Linked DNA regions of Homo sapiens: region 2 is linked to region 1. The links come from fine-mapping of genetic effects on gene expression. A gene starts in region 1. The other region holds a variant in brackets. All regions are shown on one strand. Distances are from middle to middle.

The links. PIP is the estimated chance that this variant, and not a neighbour inherited with it, causes the effect. A credible set is the group of variants that fine-mapping cannot tell apart.
Region 2: its variant is the best candidate, but not a certain one, in a credible set for the expression of ZNF575 in whole blood (INTERVAL, PIP 0.85).

The regions. Positions count from the first base shown.
Region 1 is chr19:43,531,307-43,535,692 of GRCh38, forward strand. ZNF575 (zinc finger protein 575) reads left to right here and starts at 1,882. Exons shown (of 4, transcript NM_174945.3): 1 at 1,882-2,215; 2 at 2,489-2,596; 3 at 3,031-3,195; 4 at 3,723-4,386. The coding sequence starts at 3,117. The coding sequence ends at 4,381. RefSeq lists silencers at 1-20, 1,988-2,297.
Region 2 is chr19:43,566,652-43,571,037 of GRCh38, forward strand. The region is part of intron 2 of XRCC1 (X-ray repair cross complementing 1); the gene reads right to left. Among named protein-coding and RNA genes, the nearest start is that of XRCC1, 6.7 kb to the right of the region's middle. The variant G/A (reference allele first, on the strand shown) is at 2,466.

The sequences.
Region 1 (4,386 bases):
GGCACAGTGGCTCACCCCTGTAATCCCAGCACTTTGGGAGGCCAAGACGGGTGGATCACGAGGTCAGGAGATCGAGACCAGCCTGGCCAACATGGTGAAACCCTGTCTCTACTAAAAATACAAAAATTAGCTGGGTGTTGTGGTGAACACCTGTAATCCCAGCTACTTGGGAGGCTGAAGCAGGAGAATCGCTTGAACTCGGGAGGCAGAGGTTGCAGTGAGCCAAGATTGCGCCACTGCACTCCAGCCTGGGGGACACAGCGAGATTCCATCTCAAAAAAAAGAGAGAGAGAGAGACCGAAGTGTCACTTCAAACTAATACAATGTGTGGAGCTCATTTAGATCTTAAGTCAAGCAAATCAAGTGTAATAAAAAGATATTTATGAGATATGATGTTTGACATTTAGCTTCAGAATCATTTGGGAAGAGTGGATGGGGGGTAAATCAAACAATACTGGTCATGAGTGAATAATTATTTTAAAAACTTTTTTTTTAAAGATACGGGGTATCACTCTGTTGCGCAGGCTGGAATGCAGTAACACAATCATAGCTCATTGCAGACATGAACTCCTGGGTGAGTCCCCACTCCCTACCCCCGTGAAATAGCTGGGACTACAGGCTGCCATTAAGCCAGACTTTTTTTTTTTTTTTTTTTTTTTTTTTAAGATGGGGAGGTGTCTCACTATGTTGCCTAGGCTGGGATTTTTGTTTGTTTGGGTTTTTGGTTTTTTTGTTTTTTTGAGACGGAGTCTCACTCTGTTGCCCAGGCTGGAGTGCAGTGGCTTGATCTTGGCTCACTGCAACCTCTGCCTCCCAGGTTCAAGCCATCCTCCCACCTCAGCCTCCGGAGTAGCTGAGATTACAAGCGTGTGCCACCATGCCTGACTAATTTTTGTATTTTTAGTAGAGACGGGTTTTCACCATGTTGGCCAGGCTGGTCTCGAACTCCTGACGTCAGGTGATCCGTCCACCTCCGCCTCCCAAAGTGCTGGGATTACAGGCGTGAGCCACCGTGCCTAGCCCCCGTCTAGTTTGGAAATCCTGGGCTCAAGTGATTCGCCCGCCTCTGCCTCCCAGAGTGCTGGGATTACAGGCATGAGACAGGGAGCCCGGCCTAGGCACTTTCTAGTCTAAACACTTTCCATTGATTATCATATTTAATCCTAAAAACGCTCCATTTTATAGATGAGGAAACAGGCCTAGAAAGAGAGCTAGAAAGGGTCACACGGCTAGAAAGTGGCACAGCCGTATTCCAAACCAGTTACCCAGGCAATCTGGCTCCAGAGTCCAAATAACCCCGCCAAACTCCCAGGGATCGCCAGACCTTGCGGGTTATCGGACTGAGACCCACCCATGCAGAGGACTTTTATGGGCATTTCCTGGTCCTTTCTGCACCAGGCAGGAAGGTGCACCGCCACTGCTCGGGAAGAATGCTAAGCTGCATGCCACCCCAGGCCTGGCACCAAGAGCATGGGCCAGGGCACCTCGGGACCACCCAGGCTTCCGAGGGGGAAGGTAGATGGGTGCGTGGCTGAGAATCTTGAATCACCCAATAGCGAGGTGTGCCAAGGCGCTGTGCAAATAACGTGCCTTTTATTGGGCACTGGCTCTCTTTGAGCCCGGAGTCCCGCCCCCGCCCTCTCTCGAAGAACTGGCCAGACTTTTTGCAAACGCCTTGAAGGGTAGAATTAGCAGCGAGCTCTTGAAACTGCCTCTGGAGATGGAACTCAGCGGAATTCTCGAAAAGAAGAGGGACATTAAAAAGACGGGTGCATGCACTGATTTCCAAGCGCAGTTTGTCCATGTTAGTCTTGTACATGCTTGACTCCAGTCAGCCACCGTAGGCCCCGCCACCGGCGGTGCACTTTCTGTCGATACGGTAGCTTCGCGCTTGCTCACGAACTTGCCTGCCTGGCTGGCGCACCCAGCCCCTCCTTCCATTCCTTCTTCCCCCTCTCTGCAGCCTCTGCCAGCCCGCACTGCGCATGCTTTCTGACGCCCCCTTTGGTCCAGCGTGGGAGGAGGGGATGGAAATGAGGTTGGGCTAAGCAGCTTGCGCGCGCTCCCTTGCCTGCCCTCCCCCGACGCCGGACGCGCGCCGGGCGGGGCAGCTCCGCTGGTCCGAGGGCAGTGCAGCAGCGGCGACAGCGGCTGCGGCCGTGGCCGTGGCGGGAGGAGCCGGAAGCCCCGCCCCCGGGGAGGGGCCGTCCTGCAGGTGAGGGCGCAGGGGTTCGGGCGCGGATATTGGCTTGCAGGCTGAATGCCAGAATCACCCCGAGGGAGATCGGTTGTGGTCCGGACGCCTAGATTCTGGAGATGCTGGAGGGACTGTGCATTGGTGCCAGAGCCTCGGGAGGGTGCATCGGTGCCTGAATGTCTGATTCCGAGGGGTGCATTGAATCCTTTACGCTTGGGACTCTGAGGGAAAAGTCCATTAGGGGTCTCTGGACCGCGACGCATGCCAGGTTCCTTCCGTATCTTCCTCCAGGTCCCCCCTCTATCCTCCACGGCCCCATCCAAGCCAGGGATGAAATTTAACGGCAAGAAGGGCGCAGTTGACGCGGCGTCAATGAACTGAGACTAAGTCAAAAGCCGGGTAAAGCTAGGTCTTCGACGTGAAGCCCCGCCCACTGTGCCCATAGGCCCCTCCCCTGGGACGGTGATGAAAGACCTGCCCACTCCGCTCGAAGGCCCCCGCCCCCTGGGTCTAGTTTCAGAACAAGACTTTTTTTGTACAGCCCCGCCCATTCCAGGACTGCAGGGTCTGGTGGGGAAGGTCCCGCCCACTCTGCGCATAGGCCCCGCCGGCTCCGCGCTTAAGACGGCCGCTGAGTTAGTTGTGGAGACTCCGCCCACTCTGCTGAAAGACTCCAACCCTGGGTTTAGATAGCGAAGGGACTGCCTCTGGCTTGAATTTGCATAGCCCCGCTCACTGTGCTCTTAGGCTCCGCCTCCCCGCTAAGCCTGCCCCCGCCTTAGCATCCCATACTTGCAGACCTTGCTCCTAAACAGTGTGATCCCTCATTTTAGGCCCTCCAACCCTATCCCCATCAGCCTGGTCATCACCGGCGTCACCCCCGCCCCGCGCCCTGCCCCTAGGTTCCTGTGCCAGCAAGATGCTGGAGCGAGGCGCGGAGTCCGCGGCCGGGGCTACCGATCCTAGTCCCACTGGCAAGGAACCAGTGACCAAAGAAGGTGAGAGTGCCCCGCCTGTGAGTAGGGAGCATTCTCCAGGAACGGGGGCCAAAATAATCACATTCTGGGGGAATCTCAGGGTGAAAATTTGAGGGCCCTAGGGTGATGACTATTTGGGATCCCCAAAACTGCCACATTCTGGGAAATCCTCCCATTTGGCTCAGAGAGAGCCTCAGTGACCATTTGCTAAGGCTCAGGAAATGAGCCTTACAGAAGGGACGGGTCAGGGATGACATGCGGGATGTCAGGGTGATCACTGGGAAGATACTAGAAACGGATACCTTGGTAGCTTTGAGGAAGCCTTAGTAGCTTTGGGGATCCAGGAAAGTAACCCTTTGGAGTCCCTCAGAATGACGCCTGGGGGGAGGGGGGAGCAGAAACATGCAATTTGGGGAGTCTCAATGTGATGCTTGAGGTGCCCAGGTACACTTGGAGGAGCCCCACGAATATCAAAGTCGTGGCGGAGCCTGGCCTAGGCCCAGGGCGTTGGCTGCTTCCTGGAGCCCACCAGCCCTCCTGTCCCCCAGCTCCCCACCAGGGCCCACCGCAGAAGCCCAGCCAGTCAGCTCCAGGGCCCACCGCGTCCGCGGGCTCGCCTCCCCGGCCTCGCCGGCGGCCCCCGCCCCAGCGCCCGCACCGCTGCCCCGACTGTGACAAGGCCTTCTCGTACCCGTCCAAGCTGGCCACGCACCGCTTAGCACACGGAGGCGCCCGACCCCACCCATGCCCAGACTGCCCCAAGGCCTTCTCCTACCCCTCCAAGCTGGCAGCCCACCGCCTCACGCACAGCGGCGCCCGCCCGCACCCGTGCCCACACTGCCCGAAGTCCTTTGGCCACCGCTCCAAGCTGGCGGCTCACCTCTGGACCCACGCACCCACCCGCCCCTACCCGTGCCCCGACTGCCCCAAGTCCTTCTGCTACCCTTCCAAGCTGGCGGCCCACCGCCACACGCACCACGCCACCGACGCCCGCCCCTATCCTTGCCCGCATTGCCCCAAGGCTTTCTCATTTCCCTCCAAGCTGGCCGCCCATCGCCTATGTCACGACCCCCCAACCGCGCCCGGCAGCCAGGCGACTGCCTGGCACCGATGCTCCAGCTGCGGCCAGGCCTTTGGCCAGAGACGCTTACTGCTCCTTCATCAACGCAGCCACCACCAGGTGGAGCACAAGGGGGAGAGAGACTGAGCCCT
Region 2 (4,386 bases), 35 kb after region 1:
GTGGATTTCTTGAGCCCAGGAGTTCAAGACCAACCTGGGCAACACGGCGAAACCCCGTCTCTACTAAAAACAGAAAAATTAGTTGGGCATGGTGGCATGCGCCTGTAGTCCCAGCTACTCAGGAGACTGAGGCACGAGAATCACTTGAACCTGGGAAGCAGAGGTTGCAGTGAGCCGAGATTGCACCACTGCATTCCAGCCTGGGCAACAGAGCAAGACTCAATCTCAAAAAAAAAAAAAAAAAAAGGTTTATATATACATGGTAACAACCCAATAAATGTCCATCAGTTGATGAATAGATAAACATTGTACAGTATATTTATGGAATATCATCCAGTTATTTAAAAAACTGAAGTTGTGATATATGCTACAACATGGATGAACCTCAGAAACATTATGCAAAGTGTAACAAGGTTAAGTGTAAAAGACCACGTATACATTTATAAGTCCAGAATACGCAAATCCAGAGAAGCAGAAAGTAGATCAGTGGTTGCCAAGGGCAACATTGGGGAGAGAATAAGAAGTGACTGTTTAATGGTTATGTGGTTTCTTTTTGGAGTGATGAAAATATTCTGAATTAGAGAATGGAGATGGTTGAAGAACATTGTCAATATGCTAAAAAAAAAAAAAAAACCCTGAAATGTGCACTTTATTTATTTATTTATTTATGTTTTTTGTTGAGACGGAGTCTCACTCTGTTGCCCAGGCTGGAGTGCAGTGGTGCAATCTCAGCTCACTGCAAACTCTGCCTTCCAGTTCAAGTGATTCTCTTGCCTCAGCCTCCCGAATAGCTGGGACTACAGGCACGCACCACCACCCCCGGCTAATTTTTGTATTTTCAGTAGAGATGGGGTTTCACCATGTTGGCCAGCCTAGTCTCGAATCCCTGACCTCAAGCAATCCACCCGCCTTGGCCTCCCAAAGTGCTGGGATTACAGGTGTGAGCTACCGCATCTGGCTGAAATGTGCACTTTAAATGGTTAAAACAGTAAATTTTATGTGAATTTTTCTCAAAATAAGAGATGAGTGCTCAGTATGTATCAGCTGTGAGGATAAGAGCACAAGATGACTATCACCGATGGCCTGGGTTCGTGTGCATGCAGCTTTCTCAGGGAGACACAGTTCTGATATGAACTGTTCCTGAAACAAACATGGCACAGGAAGGCAAAGTTCCTGAGATATATTGCTAAAAAACTGTTTCACATCCATGAAATGCAATCTTTTCTTTTTTTTTTTTTTTTGAGACAGAGTCTTGCTCTGTCACCCAGGCTAGAGTACAGTGGCACGATCTCGGCTCTCTGCAACCTCCGCCTCCCGGGTTCAAACAATTCTCCTGCCTCAGCCTCCCAGGTAGCTGGGATTACAGGTGCCCACCACTGCACCTGGCTAATTTTTATATTTTTAGTAGAGACAGGGTTCCACCATCTTGGCCAGGCTGGTCTTGAACACCTGACCTCGTGATCCACCTGCCTCAGCCTCCCAAAGTGCTGGGATTACAGGCGTGAGCCACCGCGCCCGGCCATGAAATGCAATTGTATGCATCATTTAAAAGAATAAGGTAGGCTGCGCACGGCGTGGCTGACGCCTGTAATCCCAACACTTTGGGAGGCCAAGGCAGGAGGATCACTTGAGGTCAGGAATTCAAGACCAGCCTGGCTAACATGGGGAAACCCCATCTCTACCAAAAATACAAAAATTAGCCAAGCCTGGTGGCATGTGCCCGTAATCCCAGCTACTAGGGAGATTGAGGCAGGAGAATCACTTGAAGCTGGGAGGGGGAGGTTGCAGTGAGCCACGATCGCACTACTACACTCCAGCCTGAGTGACAGAGCGAGATTCTGTCTCAAAGTAAGTAAGTAAGTAAGTAAGTAAATAAATAAATAAATAAATAAGGTAGAACTTCATGCAGTGTGCATCTCCAAAATACACTGTTACTTGAAAAAAAACACACAAGGGAACAGTGTATATACTATGAATTTTTTAAAAAGGGATGGAGGCGGTAGGTATATATGCTTGTATGTGTACAGAATGACCCAGGAAGACCACCCAAAAAAACTGCTAATGGTGGTTGCATCAGGAGAGAAGAATGAGGGAGCAGGAGTTGGGGAGGGAGCAGGAGTTGGGGAGGGAGCAGGGAGGGATGGAAAGGGTGAGGGGAGATTTTCTTTTTAGTGTATACCCTTTTGCACCTTTTGAATTTTGCACTATATGCATATAATACCCATTCAGAAAGCAAATATAATAAAACCCCAATGGCCAGGTCTTTGTGGCTCTGTCTGTAATCCCTGTAATCCCAGCTACTCAGGAAGCTGCCTCCAAAAAGCTTAAAAAAAAAAAAAAAAATTAGTTGGGTGTGGTGGTGTGCACCTATAGTCCTAGCTACTCAGGAGGCCAAGTTGGGGGATCACCTGAGATCAACAGTTCAAGACCAGCCTTGGCAACATAGTGAGACTCCGTTTAAAAAA[G/A]AAAATCAAATATAAATAAATAAAACCATAATAGTTATCTCAATACAACAGAATACTATACAGAAATGACAATAGGCCAGGTGCAGTGGCTCATGTCTGTAATCCCAAGGATTTAAGAAGCTGAGGCAGGAGGAATGCTTGAGTCCAGGAGTTCAAGACCAGCCTAGACAACACAGTGAGACCCCCATCTCTGCAAAAAAAATACAAAAATTAGACTGGTGAACTGGCACATGCCTGTAGTCCCAACTACTGAGGAGGCTGAGGTGGGAGGATCGCTTGAGCCCGGGAGGTCGAGCCTGTAGTGAGCTGAGATGGTGCCACTGCACTCCAGCCTGGGCAACATAGTGAGACCCTGTCTCAAAAAAAAAAAAAAAAGACAATAGGAGTCGAGCACAGTGGCTCATGCCTGTAATCCCAGCACTTTGGGAGGCCAAGGCAGGTGGATCACTAGAGGTCAGGAGTTCGAGACCAGCCTGACCAACATGGTGAAAACCTGTCTCTACTAAATACAAAAAATTAGCCAGGCGTGGTGGTGCATGCCTGTAATCCCAGCTACTTGGGAGGCTGAGGCAAGAGAACCACTTGAACCTGGGAGGCGGAGGTTGCAGTGAGCTGAGATTGTGCCATTGCACTCCAGCCAGAACAACAAGACGAAACTCCGTCTCAGAAAAAAAAAAAATCACAATAAATCATCTACAGCTACACTGAACGACATAGATGAAATGAACAAACATAACAAGGGAAGCCAGATAAGAAAAGTTTATACCACACGATTCCATTTTATATGCAATTCAAAATCAGGCAAAATGAATCTATGCTGTTAACAATCAGGACAGTGGTTACCCTTGCAGGGGTACTGACAGAAAGAACCTGAGGGAACTGCTGGGGGCTAGGCATGTTCTGTGCTGCATCTGGGTGTGGAGTACACAGGGCTGCAGTTTGCAAAGAGTCACTGAGCTGTACTCTTACTTACACCTTCACTTCACTCTATGTATGTTACACATCAAAAAACAGTAAAAACAAATTTAAGACACCACAGTGGCGAACTGAGTGATTAGAAAACCAATAACAATCAAAAATGACCATAGGCCCTATTGCTGATGAACATTTCTTCTAAAAATGACACACCTCCAGTGACACACCAGAGTTATATCTGGGTCTTGTCCAAGCCACCCCTCCAGCCCAGGAGTAGTTAGCAAAGAGGTTGGCATTTCCCTCTGGGAGCAGGTGATGAACAGACAACAGAGCCTGCTGTGGCTACTGCAAACAACCAGGTGTGTGGGGCTGTCATAAGCAGATGGCTAAGCCCCATGTGGTAAGATCGAGATTTTGCATAACAATAATTAGAGGAGAAAATGCAGGGTAGTAGAAGAACCCACAGATGTGGCCAGGTGCAGTGGCTCATGCCTGTAATGCCAGCACTTTGGGAGGCCAAGACAGGAGGACTGCTTGAGCTCAGGAGTCCGAGACCAGGCTGGGCAACATAGTGAGACCCCATCTCTACGAAAAATTTTTAAAATTAGCTGGGCCTGGCGGCACACGCCTGTAGTCCCAGCTATCTGGGAGGCTGAGGTGGGAGGATTGCCTGAGCCCAGGAGGTTGAGGCTACAGTGAGCCATGACTTTGCAACTGCACTCCAACCTGGGCAAGAGAGTGAGACCCTGTCTCAAAACATAACATAACAACCCAGAGATAAGCCTACTGCCTTGGTGGCCAGAAATGTCTGCCTTTATCAGTTACGTCAAAAGAATCAAAATTAGCATTTGATGAATCCAGAGTAACCCCACAAATTAGTCATTGCCAGATGCAATCAGTCATTCCAAAGGGTCTCTGACGTGGAGTAAGTTAACAAAACAACTGCTGCAATGCTGATCTCCCACTCCTGTGTGTGGCCCCTGCAGTTGATTGTCAACATGGAGCC